7 linked regions of the Homo sapiens genome follow. The protein of the gene in region 3 purifies or fractionates together with the protein of the main gene of each other region. This does not show direct contact. Each region holds a gene or a part of one and is shown on either strand. Other genes may lie near its edges. The genes, in order: ERC1, PPM1G, BMX, CHD1, CC2D1B, ABCE1 and C11orf58.

What was found.
Region 1: the proteins of BMX (region 3) and ERC1 purify together in Homo sapiens (affinity purification with mass spectrometry; one large-scale study listed by BioGRID and IntAct). This does not show direct contact.
Region 2: the proteins of BMX (region 3) and PPM1G purify together in Homo sapiens (affinity purification with mass spectrometry; one large-scale study listed by BioGRID and IntAct). This does not show direct contact.
Region 4: the proteins of BMX (region 3) and CHD1 purify together in Homo sapiens (affinity purification with mass spectrometry; one large-scale study listed by BioGRID and IntAct). This does not show direct contact.
Region 5: the proteins of BMX (region 3) and CC2D1B purify together in Homo sapiens (affinity purification with mass spectrometry; 2 studies listed by BioGRID and IntAct, with this or other methods). This does not show direct contact.
Region 6: the proteins of BMX (region 3) and ABCE1 purify together in Homo sapiens (affinity purification with mass spectrometry; one large-scale study listed by BioGRID and IntAct). This does not show direct contact.
Region 7: the proteins of BMX (region 3) and C11orf58 purify together in Homo sapiens (affinity purification with mass spectrometry; one large-scale study listed by BioGRID and IntAct). This does not show direct contact.

The regions. Positions count from the first base shown.
Region 1 is NC_000012.12:1,025,723-1,029,222, reverse strand, and holds part of ERC1 (ELKS/Rab6-interacting/CAST family member 1), read right to left. Parts: intron 1,476-3,500; 5' UTR 1,320-1,475; coding exon 651-1,319; intron 1-650. UniProt on the Homo sapiens protein: Regulatory subunit of the IKK complex. Probably recruits IkappaBalpha/NFKBIA to the complex. May be involved in the organization of the cytomatrix at the nerve terminals active zone (CAZ) which regulates neurotransmitter release.
Region 2 is NC_000002.12:27,403,092-27,406,591, forward strand, and holds part of PPM1G (protein phosphatase 1G), read right to left. Parts: intron 1-3,500.
Region 3 is NC_000023.11:15,507,307-15,510,806, reverse strand, and holds part of BMX (cytoplasmic tyrosine-protein kinase BMX), read right to left. Parts: intron 3,500-3,500; exon of another isoform or gene 3,398-3,499; intron 2,463-3,397; 5' UTR 2,454-2,462; coding exon 2,316-2,453; intron 1,479-2,315; coding exon 1,374-1,478; intron 1-1,373. UniProt on the Homo sapiens protein: Non-receptor tyrosine kinase that plays central but diverse modulatory roles in various signaling processes involved in the regulation of actin reorganization, cell migration, cell proliferation and survival, cell adhesion, and apoptosis.
Region 4 is NC_000005.10:98,898,008-98,901,507, reverse strand, and holds part of CHD1 (chromodomain-helicase-DNA-binding protein 1), read left to right. Parts: intron 1-172; coding exon 173-322; intron 323-425; coding exon 426-697; intron 698-1,802; coding exon 1,803-2,028; intron 2,029-2,743; coding exon 2,744-2,844; intron 2,845-3,073; coding exon 3,074-3,252; intron 3,253-3,500. UniProt on the Homo sapiens protein: ATP-dependent chromatin-remodeling factor which functions as substrate recognition component of the transcription regulatory histone acetylation (HAT) complex SAGA. Regulates polymerase II transcription.
Region 5 is NC_000001.11:52,356,206-52,359,705, forward strand, and holds part of CC2D1B (coiled-coil and C2 domain-containing protein 1B), read right to left. Parts: coding exon 3,500-3,500; intron 3,330-3,499; coding exon 3,254-3,329; intron 3,153-3,253; coding exon 3,045-3,152; intron 2,953-3,044; coding exon 2,822-2,952; intron 2,554-2,821; coding exon 2,481-2,553; intron 2,257-2,480; coding exon 2,126-2,256; intron 1,712-2,125; coding exon of another isoform or gene 1,694-1,711; coding exon 1,576-1,693; intron 1,494-1,575; coding exon 1,321-1,493; intron 922-1,320; coding exon 796-921; intron 238-795; coding exon 179-237; intron 98-178; coding exon 1-97. UniProt on the Homo sapiens protein: Transcription factor that binds specifically to the DRE (dual repressor element) and represses HTR1A gene transcription in neuronal cells.
Region 6 is NC_000004.12:145,101,311-145,104,810, reverse strand, and holds part of ABCE1 (ATP-binding cassette sub-family E member 1), read right to left. Parts: intron 426-3,500; 5' UTR 399-425; coding exon 296-398; intron 1-295. UniProt on the Homo sapiens protein: Nucleoside-triphosphatase (NTPase) involved in ribosome recycling by mediating ribosome disassembly. Able to hydrolyze ATP, GTP, UTP and CTP. Splits ribosomes into free 60S subunits and tRNA- and mRNA-bound 40S subunits.
Region 7 is NC_000011.10:16,737,368-16,741,446, reverse strand, and holds the start of C11orf58 (small acidic protein), read right to left. Parts: upstream 2,801-4,079; 5' UTR 2,669-2,800; coding exon 2,606-2,668; intron 1,892-2,605; exon of another isoform or gene 1-1,891.

The sequences.
Region 1 (3,500 bases), on a different chromosome or scaffold from region 3:
ACGCCATCACACCTGGCTAATTTTTGTATTTTTAGTAGAGTCAGGGTTTCACCACGTCGCCAGGCTGGTCTCGAACTCCTGACCTCAATGATCCGCCCACCTCGGCCTCCCAAGTGCTGGGATTACAGGTGTGAGCCATTGCACCCGGCCAACATTAACTTTTTAAAAGTAATTTCTGTTCTCAGCTGACAACACTGACTTATCCTGTGATAGTCATTTTGTTTTGTTTTTAAGAATGACTTTTTGACATTATGACAAATCTTAATGGTATACCTTACATTTAAGTTACCTACTCTAAAATACATTTGGTAATAGATATTAGAGAGTGTGGCAAAATTATACTCTCAGAAGAATTGGAAAAAAAAAAAAAAGATAACATATGCTGAAAGGAAAGACACGAAGAGAAAGAGAAACCAGAGAAAAGAACCAAGCAAGAATGGGAGCAAGGAGACATGGGCAGCTAGAAGAAAACAGGGTACAGGACCAAATTTGGAAAGGGCTGAGAAATGGAGGACACAAAACAGTAAAATCAATAGGAAAAAGGAAGATACATATACTACGAAGGGAAAAATCTAGGAAAGGGGAAAAAAAGGCTATTTCATTTATATACATGAATTCAGCCAATAAAGGTAAACACACGTAGAACTTACCTGGTTTTCCTCCTGTACAACTCTGTACTGTTCCTTCCAAATGGTGATTTTGGAAGCTTCATCTTTTCTCAGGGCTCGTTCCTTCTTCAGCTCTGGGCTCCAGAAGGTCTTGATGCTATTCATTGAAGAACTCAATTTGCTCTCCTTTACTTCCACATCCTTCCGCAAGAGATCATTTTCTCTTAATACTTCCTTCAGCTGTGTCTGCAGATCCATGATTGTGTTATCTCTCGCCTGACGAAGGGAGTGAGGTACAGTGGATGCCATACTCACAGGAGGGAGGTGATGCTCTCCAAATGCTATGGTGTCACTAGCAACCCCACTGCTAGCTATATTGGGGCTACTACCCATAGCAGTCATCCGAACACCGTAAGGCAGACGTCCCCCAGAACGGCCAAGTGTCATGGTGCTTTTAGGTGTTTCTGAACCCACATTTTCATGGTCACTTAGATACATAGGGCCAGAGGTGGCATAGGCAGCATTTAAAGATTGTATATTTTCCATTGAAAGGGTTTTCCCACTGCCACCTCCAACACTGCTTCCCGAACTCCCTCCCGTACTGTTGGTTCGACGGTGACCCAAGCGAGGGGAACGTGGAAGCCTGGGTGAACGCCCAGGGCTCTGGCTGCTCGGCTCCACCTTCCCAACAGAGCGGGCACTTCCATACATGGTTGCAAGGTCAGGAAAGGTGTGAGCAGAAAATCAACAACAACAACAACAAAAATGGGAACCTTGTGAGGTGTCTCTATGGCTACAAGTTGGTTTAAGGTTAATCAGAAGAAGGTCCCCAGCTGTCCAATCTTGAAGAAGTATCTTACACCATATCTGTAATGAAAAGATCACACATTAAATCCTCCAATAATAAATATTTCCCTTCTCAGAGACTTTCCATTACCCCCACTTAAAGAAGATCTAGCCCTTCTACCATGTATGTACTCACGCATTCAGAATGTGATTACAGCATAATGTACTCATAGTAAACAATATTTTAGAGATATTTTAGATGTCTCAAAACTGAACGCTGAAAACATACCATGCAACTGGAAAACAAACAAAAAAAGTGCCAAGTGCAATGGCTCATGCCTATAATCCCAGCGCTCTGGGAGGCCAAGGTAGGAAGATCGCTTGAGGCCAGGAGTTCAAGACCAACCTGGGATACATAGCAAGACCCTGTCTACAAAAAAGAAAAAGAAAAAAAAACAAGAAGTATAAAGATTGACAAGGAAAAGATTAAACTCAATGTCTGAATATCTGACTTGCTAACTGAAAACCCAAGATAATCAACTGACAAGTTATTAGAATAACAGAACTCAACAAACTGGTCAAACTCAATATCAATATATAAGTATCAATGTATACATCAGTAGTAACAACTAGAAAATGCAGTTTTTAATTTAAAGGAAATTTTAAATCCCATTCACAACAGCAACAAAACCATAAAAGTACTTTGATGTAAATCAACAGAAATGTGCAAGAATTTTGGGGGAAAAAAACTATAACATTTTACTGAAAGACATGAAAGAACACCTAAACAAAGTTATCTGTGTTCATGGATGAGAAGACAAACACTGCTAAGATTTAGTTCTTCCCCAACTACTTAGCACAATCCCAGTGAAAAATCTCTACAGGATTTTGCTAACCAGCTATAGATCCCTTCCTTTCACAGGTGTTGAAGGATTTTTCAAGTAACTCAACAAGCTGACTCTAAAATTCAAATGGAGAGTAAAGATACAAGAGTAACCAAACAATTTAAAATAGATGAACAAGGAAGGAAGACAGCCCTCAACAGCAACATAAATTACAAATCCATAATTCTTCATTTGTACTGCAAAAATCCAAAAACCTCTGAAAATAAGATTTTCCTTTTAACTCATCTAGCAGCAAACCTTGACCTGATCTGAGCTTACTTACTGTTTATATGTATCCCACATAGTGTGACTTCATATATTTCATTAAGAAAACAATGTGTGTGATTACTGGATACTACATAATGTCCACTAAGTATTACTGGAAAAAATTCCTGACAACAAAACCACATCTGACCTGCAAGGTTTCTTACAAAGTATTGTAGCCTTGTAAAACTATAATAACGAAAACTGTATAGTACTAGCCCAAGAACAGGGTCTAAATTATATATGGGAATTTAATATATGTTAAAAGTAACGTTTCCAAACAGTGAGTGATATGGTTTGGCTGTGTCCCCACTCAAATCTCACCTTGAATTGCAATCATCTTCATGTATCAAGGGTGGGGCCAGGTGTACTTAACTGAATCATGGGCGCAGTTTCCCCTCTACTGTTCTGGTGGTAGTGAGTGCGTCTCATGGGATCTGATAGTTTTATAAATTGGAGTTCCCCTGCACAAGTTCTCTTGCCTGTCGCCATGTAAGACATAATTTTGCTCCTCATTCGCCTTCTGCCATGATTGTGAGGTCTCCCCAGCCATGTGGAACTGAGAGTCCATTAAACCTCTTTCCTGGCAGGGTGCAGTGGCTTACATCTGTAATTCCAGCAATTTGGGAGACCAAGGCGGGTGGATCACCTGACATCAAGAGTTCGAGACCAGCCTGACCAACACGGCAAAACCCAATCTCACTAAAAGTACAAAAATTAACCAAGCATGGTGGCAGGTGCCTGTAATCCCAGCCACTCAGGAGGCTGAGGCATAAGAAGCTTGAACCCAGGCGGCAGACATTGCAGTGAGCCGAGATCGCGCCACTGCACTCCAGCCTGGGTGACAAGAGCGAGACTCCGTCTCAAAAAAAAAAAAAAAAAAAAACTTTCCTTTTTAAATTACCTAGTCTCGGGTATGTCTGTATTAGCAACATGAGAACAGACTAATACAGTGAGG
Region 2 (3,500 bases), on a different chromosome or scaffold from region 3:
ACCACTCAAGCATGGGCAAGAGTGAGATCCTGTCTCAAAATAAATACATAAATAATTTAAAAAATAAAAAGGCCGGGCACAGTGGCTCATGCCTGTAATTCCAGCACTTTGGGAGGCTGAGGCGGGCAGATCACTTGAGGCCAGAAGTTCAAGACCAGACTCGCCAGCATGGGAAAACCCCTTCTCTACTAAAAATACAAAAAAGTTAGCTGGGCATGGTGGCGAGTGCCTGTAATCCCAGCTACTTGGGAGGCTGGGGTAGGCAAATTGCTAGAACCCAGGAGGCAGAAGCTGCAGTGAGCCGAGATGGCACCATTGCACTCCAGCCTGGGCAACAAGAGCAAAACTCCAACTTAAAAAAATAAAAAGAAAATAGTTTCTCCATGCTCATGGGCATACATGTGATATAATTCTATACTAGCTTTGAACTGTGAATGGGTACTGCATGCTAATCAAATGCAAATAATGCGTTTTTATAAAAGTTGCTAACCACATTCTAGACAAAGAAATTCTGGCCAGGCGCAGTAGCTCACGTCTGTAATCCCAGCACTTTGGGAGGCGGAGGCGGGCAGATCACCTGAGGTCAGGAGTTCAAGACCTGCCTGACCAACACAGAGAAACCCCATCTCTACTAAAAATACAAAAAATAAGCCAAGTGTCGTGGCACATGCCTGTAATCCCAGCTACTCAGGAGGCTGAGGCCGGAGAATCACTTAAACAGAAAGGCCAGTGAGCCGAGATCACACCACTGCACTCTAGACTGGGTGACAGAGACTCTGTCTAAAAAAAAAAAAGAGAGAGAGAGAGAAATTCTGACCTGGTTTAGTAAGTAAAAAGCGCTTTAAGCTATTGGCTATTGATATGAGATGCTAATCTGAAGATAAGAAAATAAATGTTTTTCAACCTTCAATGCCCTAAGGTAGAACCCCATAGCATACTTGTGATATTTCTTTTTATATTTTTTCCATTAATTTAATGACTGAAACAAATATGCAGGTATTTTAAGAATTTTCTGCTCAATACTATCTTTATAGTCAATTCTAGATGACCCCTTGACCACTAATAAGCCAGCTTCTACACAGCAATAAATAGCCAGCCTCCTCAAAATTATACTATAGATATTGACACTGCCTTTAATAAAAGGAAAATATGATTTATAGCACAAAAAATTCCTGGCCGGGCACGGTAGCTCACATCTGTAATCCCAGCACTTTGGGAGGCCGAGGCAGGTGGATCACAACGTCAGGAGTCTTGAGACCAGCCTGGCCAACATAGTGAAATCCTGTCTCCACTAAAAATACAAAAAAAAATTAGCTGGCCTGGTGGCAGACTCCTGTAATCCCAGCTATTTGGAAGGCTGAGGCAGGAGAATCACTTGAACCCAAGAGGCGGAAGTTTCAGTGAGCCGAGATCAAGCCACTACACTCCAGCCCGGGTGACAATGCGAGACTCCGTTTCAAAAAAAAAAAAAATTCCTAACTCTCCATAGAAAGCAGTTTTGTCACTTCCAGAGAACCTCACAACCAAATATTAAATGTACTCTTGTCCCCTTAAGACTACATCAACTGATGGGCCAGGCATGGTGGCTCACGCCTGTAATGCCAGCACTTTGGGAGGCCGAGGCGGGCGGATTAAGAGGTCAGGAGTTGGAGACCAACCCGGCCAACATAGTGAAACCCTGTCTCTATTGAAAATACAAAAAATTAGCCGGGCATGGTGGCAGGCGCCTGTAATCCCAGCTACTCGGGAAGCTGAGGCAGGAGAATCGCTTGAACTCAGGAGGCAGAGGTTGCAGTGAGCCAAGATCATGCCATTATACTCCAGCCTGGGCAACAGTGCAAGACTCCGTCTCGGAGAAAAAAAAAAAAAAAAAAGACTACATCAACTGAATCTATTTTCAGATTTGACTTCTTATTTAGCCAACAAAAACTCAAGGGCCTTACCTTATAATTTTTCAGGCACCCCTCCACAACCTACCTCATTTTTTTTTTTTTTTTTTTAAGATGGAGTCTCACCCTGTCGCCCAGGCTGGAGTGCAGTGGTGCGATCTCGGCTCACTGCAACCTCCGCCTCCCAGGTTCAAGCGATTCTCCTGCCTCAGCCTCCGGAGTAGCTGGGACTACAGGCGTGCGCCACCATGCCCAGCTAATTCTTGTATTTTAGAAGAGACAGGGTTTCACCATATTGGCCAGAATGATCTCGGTCTCTTGATCTCGTGATCCGCCCACCTCGGCCTCCCAAAGTGCTGGGATTACAGGCATGAGCCACCGTGCCCAGTGCCTACCTCTTAATCCCAAAGTACATACCTCATCCACTTTTTTCATGGAGAAAGGAGGAAGGAGGAGAACATCAACTGTGGTGGTTTTTTTGTTTGTTTTTTTGAGACGGAGTCTGTCACCCTGGCTAGAGTGCAGCGGTGAGATCTCGGCTCACTGGCCTTCCTATTCAAGCAATTCTCTGGCCTCTGGCTAATTTTTGTATTTTCAGTAGAGACGGGGTTTCACCATGTTGACTAGGCTGGTCTCGAACTGACCTCAGGTGATCTGCCCCCCTCGGCCTCCCAAACTGCTGGGATTACAGGCGTTAAGCCACCACGACTGGCCTGTGGTATTTTGATTACCTTTTCTCAAAACACCCTGGTTGCTGGGCATGGTGGCTCACAGCATTTTGGGAGGCAGAGGCGGGCCGATCACCTGAGGTCAGAAGTTCGAGACCAGCCTGACCAACATGGAGAGACCCCCATCTCTACTAAAAATACAAAATTAGCCAGGCGTGGTGGCACATGCCTGTAATCCCAGCTACTCAGGAGGCTGAGGCAGGAGAATCGCTTGAACCCGGGAGGCGGAGGTTGCAGTGAGCCGAGATCATGCCATTGTACTCCAGCCTGGGCAACAAGATAGAAACTCCGTCTCAAAAACAAAACAAAACAAAACAAACAACAACAACACCCTGGTCACACAGGAAGAGAAGCTTGAAACAGGCAGAAAGTAAAAATGCCAGCTATTGATGATTGCCATTTTTGTCTCAAGAGTCCTCTCTACGGCTAAATCTATCCATCAGTCAGCATGTCAACAACCTTTAGTGGTATGATAACCTTACCTCAAATGAAGCATTAGGACCAAGCAAATAGGGTAAATAAACTTTATTAATTTTTGGATTAAGCCCTAAAGCTTCAGAGGAATGGGAGTACTTTATATTTTCTGGAAAGATAAGATTCAGGGAAGAGGCTAGAACTCATAGTTATTTTCTTGCAATAGCAAAGAAACTATGCTACACTTTGAAGAGAAAAAAAGCCAGAAGGAACACTATCAATGAAGCAGAATAGGATCCCAAACAATACTCTTCAAGAGGATTTGATTAGGCATATTTAACTATTGATTAGGCATATTTATTCAAACAAGGGCAACTTCAGAAACAGCACATTAGCAAGATTTTAATACCCTAAGCAGTTATCTCTCAGGAGGAAGATTAGGATGTAAGGAATAGTCTAGTAAGATCTC
Region 3 (3,500 bases):
AACTCTTGTTGGTAAATATACACAGCATTTGTTAAACACTTACTAGTTGCTGGGCTCTTTCCTAGCTACTTCAGTATTTTAATCTTATTTCAACTCTGTGAGAAATAGAAGTTGAGTATGTGTTTACAGTTGCACAAGTATAAGTGGTGGAACTAGGAACTCTCTGGGGGCTCCAAAGCCTGTGATCTTTTGAGCACTATGCCTCTATGAGGTGAGTTTGCAGCATCTTCCATGAGCATGCCCTCCCCTGGTTTCCCCCAATTGGGTAATTTTTTTAATGAAAACAATGTTTATGTAGAGATGAGGTCTCGCTATGTTGCCCAGGCTAGTCTTGAACTCCCAGCCTTAAGTGATCCTCCCTCCTTGGCCTCCCAAAGTGCTGGGATTACAGTCATGAACCACTGTGCCTGGCCTGGTAATATTTTTTCCAAATGGGAAGTATGGGTTGTTAATCAACTGGATTATTGTATTTCATTTTTGGCCACAGGTTCCTAATACTAGCACTGGGTAGTCAGGCCATCTGAAAGACAATCCATCTACCTTTGGATCAGAAATGTAAGATTTTATGCTATAAGAAAAGTAGGGCATGACTTAGATTAGGCCACTTCCAAAAGGTACTACCAGCATACACTACATACCATACCATTGTTTAAAATACTTCAGGGTAAAATGAAAACTCCTTAGCATGGTCACCTCTCCAGGCTATCTCTTTCACTGTCACATGGGCTTCTTTATTCATAGGGACTACTTAGTGCTCTCTAAATGTGTCATACTGTTTCACTCATCAGTGCCTTGACACCTGCTGCTTCCTTTGTACCACTGTCCTTCTCATATTTGCTGGGTTAAATTTTACTTGTCCTTCTCAACTTGAGTGTCACCTCCAATAGAATATCTCTCTAGCCTCTTGGAGTGAGGAATGAAACTTCCACATCCTGGGACTCCATGGATGCATTCTGCTGACCTCCACCTTAACTCTCACCCTCACTGCTTTGTAATGGTCTGTGTATTAGTCTATTTTGCCACTTCCCTGTAAATGCCTTGGGGTAGGGGCAGTGTTTTGTTCCCCATAGTATGCCTACTACTGTGTACCACATCGGAGATACTCAGCAATGTTTGTTAAAAGAGATGATCAGACCTGAGGCAGGTCAGGTCACTGCGACTTACGCTCCTGTCTTGCTTCCCTTCCCTTCCCTCCAGGGAAGGCAGATTGGTGGACAGAATTTTAGCAAAATGCCCAACTCCCATGTGGGAATATTCCAAGCCTTGTTTAGATTATTTTGAAATATCATTATTTTTCCTAGATATATTGAGTTCACGATAGAAAAATTGAAGGAAGAACTATCCACCCAATGCAATGTCGTTCTTCCCTTTACCTGAAATGGGTACTGTCTCTCTACAGGCGTCTGCTCCTCGAGATTTACTTTCTCCACACATCTGATTTTCTTAATTTCAATGGATCCTTTTCTGCTGCCCCTTTTCTGAATTAAAAAACAAAATGTAAGATACTTCCTGCAATACATCATGGTGCACAAGGAAAGGCATAAAGCCCAAGTTATGCCTGAGAGGGAGATTGGGGTGGGGGGTGGGCAATGGAGAGTCACTTCCTATTACCCCGTAATAGTCAAAATCCAATGACAACATAATCTATTCCTTGAGTCTGGACACAAACACATATATTCCAGTGGTTAATAATCTTGTTTGATTATCTTGAAATGTGTTTCAAATCACCTACCATGTGGTTAATATACTCAGGAAAATCAAGATTTAACTTCTGCAAAGCATCTTCATTTTGGCTCAGTCTTATGACAGTATTTCAGTGTTTTTACTATAGTAGAATTCTCAACTGTACAGGAATAGTCTTATTTCTAGCATTGTTTTAAGGCACTATTGCCATTTAAGGCTGGGTAATTCTTTGTTGTGAGGACTGTCCTGTGCACTGCAGGATGGTTAGCTGCATTCTTGGCCTCTACTCACTAGATGTCTTTAACACTTACTGTTCCTATCCCCCAGTTGGAACAACCCAAAATATCTCCAGTCTTTTCCCAATGTCACCTGGGGAGCAAAAATGCCCTCAGTTGAGAACCACTGTTCTAAAGTTATAATTTGCCTTAGTAAAGTTAACTAATGTTTTAAAATCCTTTATCTTGAATTCATTATACTTTCATTAAGAAAAGGTCATGTGATAAGTGGATAGAAGAGGATCTTCACAGTGTAAGTTAAGAAACCTGATATTCTTTCATTATGATCAAGTACTTTGTGGAGACTTAGGAAAAATAATAAATAGTATAAAAATAATGGAACACATGATGTCTCACCATTTTGTCATATTCATAGTAGGAAAGGTTTGTTTTGGTCAAAACAAAAAGCCGTTCTTTGTAATTATTTGGTGACATTTTCTTCTTTTGCTGTGATCTTTTGAGAAGAAGTTCTTCTAGAATAGATTTTGTATCCATATTATCATCCTAAACAAAATAAATAATTAAAATGAGTATTTGCAGCATCTAGGTAAGTTCTCTTTAACCTTCATATCTTTTCCTCAACGATTTCCTATTAAGGGATAATATAAATGCTGATTTTAATAAATGAGACTGATGTAGGATTATAGAATAAATTACACAATAGCTACAGTTTTTCTGCTGCCTTTGCTTTGGGTTTTATAAATATGTTGATTTTTAAAAAGCACTTTATACTTTTGACTCCTCCCACTGTGGATAATAAATTCATCATCTTTGCCCCATTCTCCAGACCACCTTATCAAAATGCTCCTTACTTTTTAAACATTCTATATGTGTTGGTTGAATTGAATTGGATATAATAAAACTTCAGAAAATTTAACTCCAGACAGCTCACAATTTATGAAGTAACGGCCTGTAATTTGACCAAATTACCCAAACCACTATGAGACACTGACATTATTGTAAATAACACCTGCAGCCCCTGATCATGGCCAGATCTTTAACATAAATTACACAGGTATAATTTTCAATATCTATGAGAATTTAAAATCAAAGTAAATGCCTAAGATAAGATAAAATGAGGAAAATGTATGAGGGTGCACTAACAGATGCTATCAAAAGAGATTTAAAAGAACTGAAAAAATGAGTACATTTACAAAGTAAAAAGACTCTTCCTTTTTATCCCAAAATCATGTAAAACATTAAAACTTAAGGTATTTCTGAAAAATAAATGCATTAATTTTCTAATTCTACTAAGACAGTTACTTCAACCCTCAGTCTAATATCAGGTCTGATCATGAAAAGTAGCAATGTTGAGCAGTAGGCCAGAGAAACAAACTTTCTTATGTTCTTCTTTGCTTTGTGAAATTGCATCGTTATTTGAATTCACATGCCCAATAGTTAAAATCTTTCTTTATTGATAATCTGAAGGCTTTACTCACCTTAGACTCGCTAGAGCCGAAGTATACATGTGGGTCCTTAACTTTGACTCTCAAGCTCTAAGCAAAAAGTTACTGCTTTGAGGCACCATCACTCATATTCCCT
Region 4 (3,500 bases), on a different chromosome or scaffold from region 3:
AAGAATATTTTCCAGAGTGTTTTTGTTTTATAAATATTTCATTTTTAGCATGAGTAAAAGCAACAGTATTTTTGATAGCGAATATAGTTTGGTTGATTTGATCATCTTTGTATTAGGGATAAAACTTGCCATATAAGTACAAATAAAAATACTTTATAAATTTTGTCTGCAGTGAAGATTGGCAAATGTCTGGGTCAGGATCTCCATCTCAGTCTGGTTCAGATTCAGAATCTGAAGAAGAGAGAGAGAAAAGCAGTTGTGATGAAACAGAATCTGATTATGAGCCAAAAAACAAAGTCAAAAGCAGAAAACCTCAAAATAGGTATGGTCTCAGTTTGGTGCTGAAAATTGATTGTGGAAAGTATTTGTTCTTTTTGTATATAGTTTCTCAAATCTTGTTTTTTTTTCTCTTTGCACTTTCCTAGATCTAAGTCAAAAAATGGAAAGAAGATTCTTGGACAAAAAAAGAGACAGATTGATTCATCTGAGGAGGATGATGATGAAGAAGATTATGATAATGATAAAAGAAGTTCTCGTCGCCAAGCAACTGTTAATGTTAGCTATAAGGAGGATGAAGAAATGAAAACAGATTCTGATGACCTACTGGAAGTCTGTGGAGAGGATGTTCCTCAACCTGAGGAAGAGGAATTTGAAACCATAGAAAGATTTATGGATTGTCGGATTGGGAGAAAAGGAGGTAGTTTTTAAAAAACCATTTATTGTTTGGTTATTTAAATAATATTTACAGGAGTAGAGGGCTGGGCACAGTGGGTCGCCCCTGTAATCCCAGTACTTTGGGGGGCCGAGGCCGATGGATCAGGAGTTCTAGACCTGAGGTCAGGAGTTCTAGACCAGCCTGGCCAACGTGGCAAAACCCCATCTCTACTAAAAATAGAAAAGATTAGCTAGGTGAGGTGGTGCGCACCTGTAGTCCCAGCTACTTGGGAAGCCGAGGCAAGGGAATTGCTTGAACCCACGAGGCTGAGGTTGCAGTGAGCTGAGATTGCACGACTGCACTCCAGCCTGGGTGACAGAGCGAAACTCCATCTCAAAAAAAAAAAAAAAAGGTAAAGTATTTAAGATTTTTCTACAGTGTTGAAAGCTAAGAGGGTGGATTTTTTGTTGTTGTTGTTTTACTTATGTTTTATAAAAGCTACTTTGCTTAGCCTGAGTACCTTCTTAATAACCACCTGACCACATTTCTTTTTTCTTTTTTTTTTTTTTTTGTGACAGAATCTCGTTCTGTTGTCCAGGCTGGAGTGCAGTGGCACGGTCTCAGCTCACTGCAAGCTCCGCCTCCCAGGTTCACGCCATTCTCCTGCCTCAGCCTCCCGAGTAGCTGGGACTACAGGTGCCTGCCAGGACACCTGGCTGATTTTTTGTATTTTTAGCAGAGATGGGGTTTCACCGTGTTAGCCAGGATGGTCTTGATCTCCTGACCTCGTGATCCGCCCGCCTCGGCCTCCCAAATTGCTGGGATTACAGGCGTGAGCCACCGTGCTGGGCCTCCAGCTGACCACGTTTCATATATTGTGGATAATTATAGAATAATGCTGTGGGATCTCAGGTGGATCTCTGTCTTTTTATTTTTTCTAATTCGAAAAAGGAGGGGATTATATTAGATAATTCTGAAATTCTCAGTTTTATTTATGAGCAATAGAATTTCCCATAAGTTTCTATACCCCCAATACTTTATTTAAAAGAGTATATATTTTTGTACTCATATTATTGAAATTTTGAGTTGAAATATAATCCTACAACAGAATTAATTACATGGAAGGATCTTGTGCTTTTGTTTTCAGCTACTGGTGCTACTACAACCATCTATGCAGTTGAAGCAGATGGTGACCCAAATGCAGGCTTTGAAAAAAACAAAGAACCAGGAGAGATTCAGTATTTAATTAAATGGAAAGGATGGTCCCATATCCACAACACTTGGGAGACAGAAGAAACCCTCAAGCAGCAGAATGTTAGAGGAATGAAAAAATTGGATAATTATAAGAAAAAAGATCAGGAAACAAAAAGATGGTAAGTATGCTGTATATCATATACTTCTTTTAATAGTTCAAAGATTACTAAACCTTTATGTTAATAAAGAATACATAGTAACATTAAATGATAGCCTAAAATAGCTATAGACTTTATAATACAGTTGGCTGTCTTTGTCCACAGCTTCTCTATCCTTGGTTTCAACCAACCATGGATTGAAAGTATTCGGAGGGAAAAAAAACAACAATAACACAAATTAAAAACAATACCATGTAACAACTATTTGCACTGCATTTACGTTGTAAATGTAAAATTGGGTATTATAAGAACATCTAGAGATGATTTAAAGTATGGGGGAGGATGTGTGTGGGTTATATTTTAGGTACCATGTCATTTCATATAAGGGACTTGAGCATCCTCAGATTCTGGTATCTGTAGAGGATCCTCAACCAATCCCCTGCAGGTAGTGAGGGATGATTTTATTCCATCTCAAGGTAAAACTCCTAGAGGTATACCTATCTAAACCTATCCTTGGTAACAGTCACATAGAGTGTGTCTCATACATTATAAATTACAAATTTTTAGTTAAAAATTAATGATGCTTTATTCCTGTTTGAGTTTCTTTATTACTCAAACTTGGCCCACACAGTGGCAAAATGGGAGATTTTGTGCTACAAATAGTGTTGGGGATGGGGGAGTGAAAGGTTATTTATGGGAGATTTTTAAGTCTATTCCTGGATTAATAATTTTTCAGGTTGAAAAATGCCTCTCCAGAAGATGTGGAATATTATAATTGCCAGCAAGAACTTACAGATGATCTACATAAACAGTATCAAATAGTGGAACGTATAATTGGTTAGTGATAAATGATTCTAGTTAAACTTTCTTTTTATGCTTGAAATAATCTGAAAAAAGTCATAAGTTTGCCACTTACATATCAAACACAGTAGCTTGCTCTTACTAAAACAGTATTGTAAACTAGATAGCTAAATTTTACTTGTGTAGCCTTTACTAAGAATTATGTATCTGATGATTAAATGTAAAAAAAAATAAATAAATAAGTAAATGCCTGATTCTCTCACAGCTCATTCCAATCAAAAGTCAGCAGCTGGTTATCCTGATTATTACTGCAAATGGCAGGGCCTTCCATACTCAGAGTGCAGCTGGGAAGATGGAGCTCTCATTTCCAAAAAGTTTCAAGCATGCATTGATGAGTATTTTAGCAGGAACCAATCAAAAACCACTCCTTTTAAAGATTGCAAAGTGAGTATTGTCTAACATTTTAAATTATTAAAAATATATTTATACATTATAAATATTTACAAGCCTAAATACAAGAGTTGGATCCTGATTTCAGATAGACTAAGGGAGAATATTTCTTGGTTAATAGGTCTTACAGGAAGTGAACTTCTGCAATTGCTGTGTGTTTTTTAGTTTTAGTTTTATAATTTTTTATTTCAAACTTTCTCTTAAAAAAATTGTAAATGATGTTTTCGTCAATGTATCTTCTT
Region 5 (3,500 bases), on a different chromosome or scaffold from region 3:
CAACTCAAAGTGGTGGGTGGGAGGGTCGAGGCCCTGAGCCTGGGCCAGCTGCAGGATCTCCAGCTGTTTCTTGCGGTCCTGAGCAAGCTTCTCAAATCTGACAGGGATGGGTATGTCAGCATGATGGTGGATTTTCTGCTCCCCACCCTATGAGCCCAGCCCCAGCCCTTGCACTTACCGGGTGGTCTCAGCCACGTTGCCCTGGTGCATGAACTGCTTGGAGAACAGCAGGCACTTCTGAAAATAGAGGCCCAGAGTGACTCCCGAGCCCAGAGCAGGACCTGCCTTGGTTGGCATTCAAGGCTAGACTTCTCAAAGCTTCAACTTTCCTCTGTAGCCTCACCTCTCTCCTCCCACAACACAGCCCCAAGGGCACTACTCCCAAGTCCCACCACGTTTCTCTGCCTACACTTTTGTCATTTTCTCTTCTGAGGAGAGCCATTCCCCAAATTAGCAACTCCTTCCATCAAAACCTAACTCAAACATCCCCTCAGAAGGCAGCCTTTCCAGAACAGGTGGCAGTTCAGATAGATAAATACATAAACATACACGCACATCACAATGTTCTTTCCCTCTTCTCTGTTGTTTGTACCACCCTGAAAGGGGTATTATCACCCCATCTCATAGATGAGGAAAATGTAGTTCAGAGAAGAAAGTGCCTTGCCCAAGTCACACAGTGAGTAAGTGGAAGAGCTGAGAATTTTGAGTCCAGGGCTGTGTGGTCTGAGCTCCAGGTCTTCCTCCACGGGGAGGCTGTGGGCACAGAGGGGAGGAACAGACGAGGGGCCTGCTGACCTCTTGTTGCTCCAGAAGCATTTTTTGCAGCTGGGCATACACCTCCTCCGCCTTCTGGGAGAGTCGCAGGTCCTCATGGTGGATGAGGATGAAGTCACCCTCCTCATCCGTCAAGGGCGAAGGCACCTACCCAGGTCACAAGGCCCCTCGGGCCCCAAGAGTCAGATTACTCCTCTACCAAGTCCAACAAAGGCAGGAGCCCAAACTAAGTAATTCTTCAGCTTCTACTAAAGTCCAGTGATGACAACTCATCGCCTCCCATTCTATCCCAAAATAACACTCTTGCCTCCCATGGCCTGGCCCAGCCTTGTCATCTCTGACCACAGGCAGCCCACCTTCCCTTCTCCTGGTTTCCTTTGGGGCCGTGAGGTAGAGGAGTATGAGCAAAAGGCTCTTTCCCAGCTGTCATCATGCTCTGTCCAAACCCTGCCTCATCCCAGAAGCTGCCCTTGTTCACAGCCTGTCAAGCCTGCCAGCCGCCACCTCCGCCTGAGAAGTCCTGGTGGTTAACCAGGTGGGACTCACCTTGGACAGATCAACAGGTCTGCCAGATCGGGCCTGGATGATCTGAGCCTCAAGCCATTTGGCTACCCGCAGATAGGCTTTGGCCTGCTCCAGGTCCTGGCTGCGCTTGGCCTGCAGGGCTGCCCGCTGATACTGCAGTTTCCGTGCCTCCAGCAGTGCCAGCTGCTCCCGCACTGAAGGGAGAAGGCCACTGGTTAGGGCCACACCTGCCCTCTCTAGGCCCTCAGTTCTTCACCCTGCTTGTCCCCAACTCACCAGATGGACTCGGTGACTCCTTAGAACTTGAGGCCCTGGGCTCAGGCAGGCGCTGGGATGAAGGGACTGTGGGCCGTGCAGGTTTCTTGGCCACTGGGGCCTGTGCTGGGGGCTCACCCTGCAGGTGCCCAGGAGGCTGTTAGGAGGGGATGTGTTCCCTAGCATAGTCATGGCGGCTCCCAGACTTGGGCTGTCTTCCTAACACTGTACTACATCGCTGTGTGACCTGAGATGGGTGGCTTCTCTTCCTGGGTCCTAAAAGATCTGAGAGCTAGAAGCAGCCTCAGAAGCTCTCACATCTAACCTCCCCAGCAGGAGAGAGACTGCAGGGTAATGGGGATGGAGCCGGGGCTCTGGGTTCAGAAAGACCTTGGTTTGAATCCTAGTTCTGCTATTTCCTAGCTGGGTGTCCTTGGGCAAGTTTTTTCTCTGTACAGTGGAGGAAAGAATATGTACCTTATTGGGCTTGTTAGTATGGACAACAGGGTCTGGGTTTACCCCTCACCTGCTATTCTCCCCACCAGCCCTGGAGTTGAGCCCTCAACCAAACCTCGTCCTCGTCTTTATCAGCCGGGGCTGAATCCTCTGCAGAGGCCAGTTTCTCTGCAGCTGCCAATGTCGCTGCCACTGCGTCCTCCTCAACACCCATAGTGGACTCCAGGCCAGGGATGGGGGGAAATCCTGTGGGAGAGAGACAGCATGGGAGGGGCAGGGAGCAGCCTCAGAGAAGCACAAAGCTACCCGGGGCCCTGTCTGGGGCATGGCTCTGCTGGGGCATGGCTGGGATGGATGGCTCCACAGAGGGGAGGCAGACGCATGAGAAGTGGGAATCACTGGCTGTCCCCCATTCCCTTCTTGCCCAGGGACCACCTCCTCACAGAGCCCCTAGGCCATGCCCCACTTACCTGGAGGAACAGGCAATTCAGCAAAGTTGACTTTCCGTCCTGCTCGGTGTGCTCGAATAGCATCTTGATATTGCTGCAAGGGAAGGAAGGGAGGGGCCTGTGGTCGGCAGCAGCCCACAGGCCCCCTGCCCAACATGACACACAGTGGGGCAAGGAGAGGGAGACTGGTGGGAAGACAGCAGCCCTGGGAGAAAAAAAGATCCCTAAGGCAGCAAGAGCCCCAGAGAGACAAACAGATGATGGTTCAGAAAAGACAAGGACTAGCCGGAGGACCAGGGAGACAGAGCACCCAGCCAGGGAAGAGGCCAGCACAGGCAGGGGCTGCATAGCCGCGGGCCCACCTTGGCAATGCGCTCATGCATCCGAGCCTTGCGCTCGTCCCCACCACTCCGGGCCTGGATGCCCGCCTCGCGGTACTTGTTCAGCCTCTGCTGCAGGGCATCCAGCACTGTCTGTGACTCTGTAGGGGCCACTTGAAGGAAAGAAGGAAGAAGTGGGCATCAGGTCAGCCTGCCCTCCAATGCCTGCAGGTCCCCACGCCACAGTCCCACCATCCTGCCCTACCTGGGGTTGCTGGGACGTCAGGGGCCATCACTGGCTGCACTCGCTCCACGGCTGGGGGAATGACTGAGGGTGCTGTGGGAGCCTGAGAAGCCTGCTGGGGCTTCAGATCTGGGGGACCCAGAGTAGAGGTGTAGGTGGGAGGGCCTGGCCAGCCCCAGGCCTGCTACTCCTCCCCAACCCCACCGCAGCCTGAGAAGATACATACTGACCCTCAGGTGCCGGGGGCATGGCACTCAGATCCACGGGCTGCCCCTTCTCCAGGGCCTCCAGGACAGCACCGAATCTCTGCAGAAGTTGGAAAAGCAGGTGTGGGTGAAAGACAGGGGACCCCAAGAGCCTGGGCTGAAACAACCCCCACTTAGGCCAATCTCACTCAATCTCAGTCTAGCTCCCTTTCTGAGCCTGTTTCCCCTATCTATAAAATGAGGGTGGGTGCCCTGAGCCAGATGCCATACC
Region 6 (3,500 bases), on a different chromosome or scaffold from region 3:
TATAAGATTTTGTAGATTTCAAGATCAGTAAGCTGAACTCTGCTTTGAGTTCACATCCAATACACTTTTAAATATTGATGTATTATTCTAAAATTTGGTCTTTCTTTAAAAAATATGATCCTTCAGTCACAAAGCAATAAAAGAAATTTAGAACAAACTACTTTTCTTGTCTTCACAGTTTTATGAAACTAATGGTGAACACAAAGTTTATGTTAATGTCCGTAAAGAATTATCAAACCAGTTGATTTCTTTCATGGTTTTCTTTTATACTTAAATGATCCACAGAACAGCTTACCCATTCGAACTACAGGACAACTCTTTTTGCATTCCTGTCGACATTTCTTAGGTTTACATTTGTCATGGTTGACAATAGCAATTCTCGTTAACTTGTCTGCCATAACTGGGCGAAAGAATATCCAGCTCTTCTATGAAAGAAAAATCAACAAATTTAATGCCATTAGTTAAGGGAACTAATTTGCATACATGAAAGACAGGAAAACATAAATGATCATTATATGGAGATGAAATGATTATCTGCAAAAAAAAAATATAAATTTTGACAAATGTAAAAATTGTAAAATAATCTATAATCTAGTAAGGTTGGGAAAATCAAATTTTACATATATACTTTAATCAGAAGATTTATATAAGGAAAGAAAAAAATGTCATTTACAATAGCGACAAAAAGAAAATATCTAGGAATATACTCAACAAGATATATACACAAGAAAACTTTAAAACAACACCAAATGATATAAATGACCTGAACAAATGACATGCTATCTCAGTTTTTATAATAAAGAATAGTTAATATCACAGATTTAAACCCTTCCTGAATTTATATATTTAATTCAATCTCATGAGAAAAAACAAACAAAAGAACCCCAGACATGTGGTGGTGTGCGCCTGCGGTCCCAGCTATTCCGGAGGCTGAGGTGGGAGGATTACCTGAGCCTAGGAGGTGGAGGTTACAGTGAGCTGAGATCACACTACTGCACTCCAGCCTGGATGAGAGTCAGACCCAGTCTCAAAAAAAAAAAAAAACCCCAACCAACCCAGACAAAGCAAATCTAAAGCTCTAATGGAAAAAGAATTATTAATAGCCAGGAAAACTGAAAAAGGGGAAGCAGGATGGGGGAAATCCCACAAGCTCTTCCCCCAAACTAAGCATTACTTCACGTCGTGTACATCTGACTATAATGACACTGACAGAAATGGCAAATAATCATAATAGCAATGAAATTAAAAGGAGACCAAATAACTATATGTATATACTATGCTCACTTTTAAAGCTTTTATAAGTCTTGATATTCCAATTTAATCAACTACACAGCATTAAGATCAAAGTTAACTTAAAAATCTTTCACAATATTGGGCTTAGTGGTTCAGAAATTAATTTCCTTAGAATGGTGATTAAAGTAAAAAATTCCAAAAGGTGCCTTAATACTCAAGTTTATTCCAATATGTAATGAATGAATCTGAAACCAAGATTATCCATTTAGAAAGAGATCATGTTGTCTTTTTCTTACTGTGATAATCAATCTTGATTTTATTTTATTTTTTTTAATAGACTGCTTCCCTTTGTAGACATCTCAAGTCTTTTTCACACCCATCAATATCATTAGGCTTGGATGGGGATAAGAGATCTTGCTCCTCGACGCTGTCCTAGACTATTATCTCTCCCTCCTCCCTAAAAAGTTTTGCATCTCAACTATCTAACTGCTTTAGTTAGTAGTGACCACCAGATCACTCCCTTTCATTCTTTGAAGATTTCAGCCCCTGTTAACTTTCACACACTCTTTTACAACTCCTGACATAGTTCTCGATTTCAATATGCTCACAGATGACCCTCCTGTCCTCTCATTTAACCCCTCTCCTCAAACAGCTTGTCTTCTACCTTACCACAGCCATTCATTTTTTCTGGTTACATCCTAGACCTTATCATTACCAGTAATTGCAATCCTTCTATAACCTCAACTTCAAATACTCCATTCTCCAACCACCATTCTTATCTTTTTAGTTCACCCCCTACTACACAACAATCCAACAACTCTGATTCCTCCATTCTTCAAACCTTTCATTATCTCTTGATTCTATCATATTTCCACTGTCCCTCAGCTCTTGGTGTTTTTATTTTCCTTCTCACCCAGCTAAAATACCCTAAATCACAATCTTGGTTAAATTCGACTCTTCACCTGCACACATAGAGCTGAAAATGGTAGGTGAAAAAAAAACACAAAACCTGCTGACTAGTCTCCCTTTAAATTCATCATCTCAAATGGACCCTTATGCCAACCAGCAATGACACTGTATGTATTTCCCTGGCTAAGACCATTTGTACACTAGAAGACATTCCATAAGAATGTCCCAACAATTCTCCCTTCTGTCTTTAACTTCATCAATTATTCTCTCCACTGGCTCATTCTTATCAGCATTCAGGCATTCTATTATCTGACCCCATCGTCTCCCATTGTTTTATTTTTCCTTCTTCAAGACTACTTCAAAGAGTTGCTTATACTCAATGTCTCAAATTTCTTGCTACATGCTCTCTGGAATCCATTCTAGGCTCTAGAGCCCATCATTTAATCAAAACTTTTCGAGCCATCATTGTTCTTCACATGGCTAAAACAAATGGTTATCAGACCTTAATTCACCTGACCAATCAATTGCATCTGACACAAATAAACACTTTTCCTACTAGATAAAAACCCTTTCTTAACTTGGTTTTAGGATACAACACTAATCTGGTTTTTCTACTGTTTTCCTGGTCACTCATCTTCATCTCCCAGGCTTCTAAATGCAGAGTGCTCTAAGACTTGGTCATTTTTTTCCACATATACTCATTCCCCAAGTTGTTCTATTCTGGTCTCACAGGTTTAAATTCCATTTATATACTGCAAATTTCCAAATTTCTATCTTTAGTCAGCATACCTCTCTTGAACCCTTCCTGCCCACCTAACATCTCTGGAAGGCTTAAGAGGAATCTCCCAACTAAGCTCCTGATATCCTCACCAAAATTTCAGCAGTCTTGCCCATTTTGTTAGATGGCAACTCCAGTCTTCCATTTGCTCAGGCCCAAATCCTTGAAGTCATTTTCTTTTCCACCTAATAACAGCAAATCCCACTGAAGCTATAAAACATCCAGAATCTGATCTCATGAGTTTGGTGTAAGCTATCACTATCATCTCTTACCAGCATCACTCAAATAGCTTCCTAACAGATCTCTTTGCTTTTACCCTCACCTCTTTCTACTCTAACCCTCAACAGTTCATTCTCAACACAGGAACCATAGGAAGCCTTTTAAAGAGTAAGCTAGATCATGTCACTCCTCTATTTAAAATCCTGCAATGGCTTCATTCTCAATCTGAGTAAATGCCAAAGTCCTGAAAATAATCAATGAGGCATTGATCAGCCTCTGTTAACTTTCTGATCTCATCTCCAACTACTCTAGCTCTTGTATGGCTCCAGCTACATTGGCTCTTTGTTGTTCCTAGCACATG
Region 7 (4,079 bases), on a different chromosome or scaffold from region 3:
ACTCTTCCCACTTCCTATAAGATAGCTTTCATTTCTCCACTCCAAGCCAATGAAACGACTTTTAAGTTGTTTTCATCCTTAATACCCTTTACTACAGAACTGCAATCAATTTACCTCCTCAATACATAACCTGGTGACTCTTAGAATTTACTCCTACATTGTTAGCGTTTTTCTAGAGTTGTATTGTGATTTAGTATCTACTTTTAATAGTAAAAAAATGTTTTGTTACCTCAATTAGATGTGAGGTCAATGGGCATAAGAAAACTTCAATGATCTCTCACATACCGTGGATGCTCATTAGAAACTGTTTCCCAACTATATATTATAACTAGATTTTTTTTTTTTTTTTTTTAAACAGAGTCTCGCTCTGTCGCCCAGGCTGGAGTGCAGTGGCGCCATCTTGGCTCACTGCAAGCTCCGCCTCCCGGGTTCACGCCATTCTCCTGCCTCAGCCTCCCTAGTAGCTGGGACTACAGGCGCCCGCTACCACGCCCGGTTAATTTTTTTGTATTTTTTTAGTAGAGGCGGGGTTTCACTGTGTTAGCCAGGATGGTTTGGATCTCCTGACCTCGTGATCCGCCTGCCTTGGCCTCCCAAAGTGTTGGGATTACAGGAGTGAGCCACCGCGCCCGGCCTGCTAGTTTTTTTTTTTTTTTCTGCAACAGCTTGGAGGTATTTTAATGAATGCATTACTTATGGTTAAAAAAATTTTTTTTTTAAGTACTGGCTGGGCGAGGTGGCTCACACCTGTAATTCCAGCACTTTGGGAGGCCGAGGTGGGCAGATCGCTTGGGTCTAGTAGTTGGAGACCAGCCTGGGCAATGTGGCAAAATCTGGTCTCTACTAAAAATACAAAAAATTAGTCGGGTGTAATGGTGCACACCTGTAGTCCGAGCTACTGTAGTGGTGGTGGGGGAAGAGGGGGTTGAAGCAGGAGGATCACCTGAGCCAGGGAGGTGGAGGCTGCAGGGAGCACTGATCGATCGTGCCACTGCACTCCAGCCTGGGCGACAGAGACCCTGTCTCACCTGTCTCAAAACAAAAACAAAACCCAGGTACTTAAAGATACGCTTATATGATTGGGAAAGGTCTTCAAGGTCGTCTAGTTTAAACCGACCTCTTCCGAAGCTGTAAACTTAATGACTTAATCCCTTTAACTTTGTTAAATTTCATATCACCTGGAGTTTTCTGTCACGCTAAAAGATATTTCCAAACAGGTGTCTGATATCCTAGCAATCAAGTCACATTTAAAGATCAGGAGGAAAACAATGTAACAGCTTTTTAAGTGGCAGCCAGGTTACTCAAAAGTGTGGATCAATTCCTGACAAAACCTGAATTACCATATTAACAAGATCTAAAATCCAGTAGCAGAAATAACAGAGAGCAAGAATAAACTTCTCTAGGTGCCCATTCATCCCCAAATCTTTACTGATTGCTAATCTTTCTGCAGAGCTGAAGTCGATTCCTTTAAAGATCCTTAATATTCCGGTCCTCGCCCCACCTCCCATCAGAGGGGTAGGTCTTAACATTATCTCATTTGCTACAAAGTAGTATTCAGTGGGCTTTTAAAATTTTATGAAGAGCGTTGAAATGCACTATCGAAAAATTTAAAGCTCTATGTATTCAGAAATTGACAGTACTTTAAACAAAACCGAAAAAAAACCTAGATATCCCTTCATCTTCCTTAAAGATGACCTCTCCGCGCTCTCTCCAACAATTTTCCCCATCAACGTTGCCAAGACACTTATCCATTGTATGAAGGACCTAGTTTTACGTTTACTGGTTACCTACCGTTTCCATGACACTGGGCTAGGAGCTAGGACAAATATACAAAAAGGCCTAAAATAAGCATCATATTTCTCTCCGAATTCCCAACACCCGGCAGTGCAGTAAATATTTAACGGGTTACTTTAAGGGATAAACCGTTTGCTATTAAAACCTATGAGGTGAGGGCTGAGGAAGGGAACGGCATTTGATGGGGAGACGAGGTAAGAAGAACGAGGTATTAATATCCGACATCAAAATGGGCTTCTAGGTCTCAACGTCTTAGACCTCACCACCAGAGCCAGTACCAAATTACACCCGTGGCACAATTTTCGGCTCAATACTGTTCTCGGTTTACCCTTACTAGTGCAGCTAAAGTTAACTCTCAACAGCACATTGTAAAAATCATCCAGGCAGGAAAAATCTGTACAAACGTGCACGAACATTTCGACATTGTCACGGGAACATTTAGAACCCAAAACAGGGAGAGTCTTGCCGTCTCTATACTGAGTACAAAGGCCCGAGAAAGCACTCTCATCGGCCCCCCAAAACGCACGTACGAAATCCCTTGACTAAGCTCTTTCACTCCTCGACCCTCTCAGAATTTCCTTCCTCAATCCCCCTTCCTACGCAGGTCTCCGGCTCTCAGCGTGTGGGCCTCTTCAAACCTTCTGACCCTCATAAAGATTAAGGGAGGCATTTCCCACTCATTCTTCTGGTTTCTTCCCTGGGCTCTCCCGCTGCAGGCCACCTCAGGCGCGTCCTCCTCCAACCACCCTTCCCGGCCTACTCCAGGCTTTAGTAGGCCTCAACCCTCAGCCACTCCGCCATTATTATTTACATCGTCGTCTGGGGAGGCTGAACGCTTCACCCCATGCGGGTGAGACTCTCTGGCAGCACTCATCCTTGCGGGGATCCCGACGAAAAATGCCGAACCCTCTCGCCGCTCTTCCCAGCCGCAAAACCAGCAGCTTACAATCCGCCAAGGGCCCAAGCAGCGCCACTACAGAACGCAGAGCCCCTCCGGGCCTTCTCTGCCACAGTCGTCACCGTTGCGGCCCCTCGCCGCCCCGGGGCACTTTGGGAGTTGTAGTTTTCTGATTCATTGCATACTGGCCCGAATAAAAAAGATGTGTCCGTGACTAAAACTACAATTCCCAGGAAGCCCCGAGGCTCAATTCGCGCTGTGTGGCGGGAGTGCCCTCAGAGGCCCCGCCTTCGGCTGGTGGAGGAAGCGTTCCCGCGGATGTGTATGGCGGTGAGCGTTGGCCGAGAGCTTTGTCGCCACAGGAGGAGGCTTAGAGGGGTTTTTGCCTTTCACCGTGCAACGCTGCCCTACTGGCAAATGTATCATCGTAGCTAGGCACCTATGTTTAAATGTAATGTTTGAGGCTGACTGAATCCTCACGAATACCCTCCACCCAGGACAAAAACCTTAACCAAAAATGGCTTCTACCATTTCCACCCTGGTGTTCTCTATTGCGCGCAGGGGATTTCTAGGTGGTCGGTGATGCTGCTTTCTAAATGTTTTCATGAATATTTCGCTGTTTTCCCATACAGAAATGAGTTCAGTATGTTGTTAAATGTTGGCTAATTGGCGGTTGTTGAAAACGGGGATTTAGCTGAGGGAAATCTGTTAAGTTTTCATATGGCTTTGTGTGAGGTGGGAGTGCTCCTCACTGACCTCGCTGTGGATGTCTGGGCACCGTTACAGTAGGGGCCTTCACCAAGCAAAGTCCATCCCTGCCACAAAAGCCTCTATTTTTTTTCTTTTTTAAAAAAAGTAATTATTGAGGTTAAATTCACATATAAAATTAACCATTTTTTAAAAAGTGTACAATCCACTGTCACTTAGTACATTCACAATCGTGTGCAGCTGTCACCTCTGATTCCAAGAAGTTTCACCACTCCAAAAGGAACCCCAATGCCCGTTAGCAATCCCTCCCCATTTCTCGCCCTCTCTCCAGATTCAAGTGATCACTCCTCTACTCAAAAAGCCCTGCATTTAAAGCTATTTATTGTTCAGATACTGAAGACTATCTCCTACTTTATTAAGGTGTCTGAATTTGTAACCAGGTCTGAACTTAACTTTCTGTCAGAATCCTTGTCCTTAATAATTCTGAAGCTTTCTCACCTTGAATACAAATGTGATTTTTTTTTTTTTTAAGCAAAAATTAGGCCTGGCGCCATGGCTCAGGCCTGTAATCCCCAGCATTTTGGGAGGCTGAGGCGGGTGGATCACGAGGTCAGGAGTTCGAGACCAGCCTGATCAACATGGTGAAACCACGTCTCTACTAAAAATACAAAAATTAGCC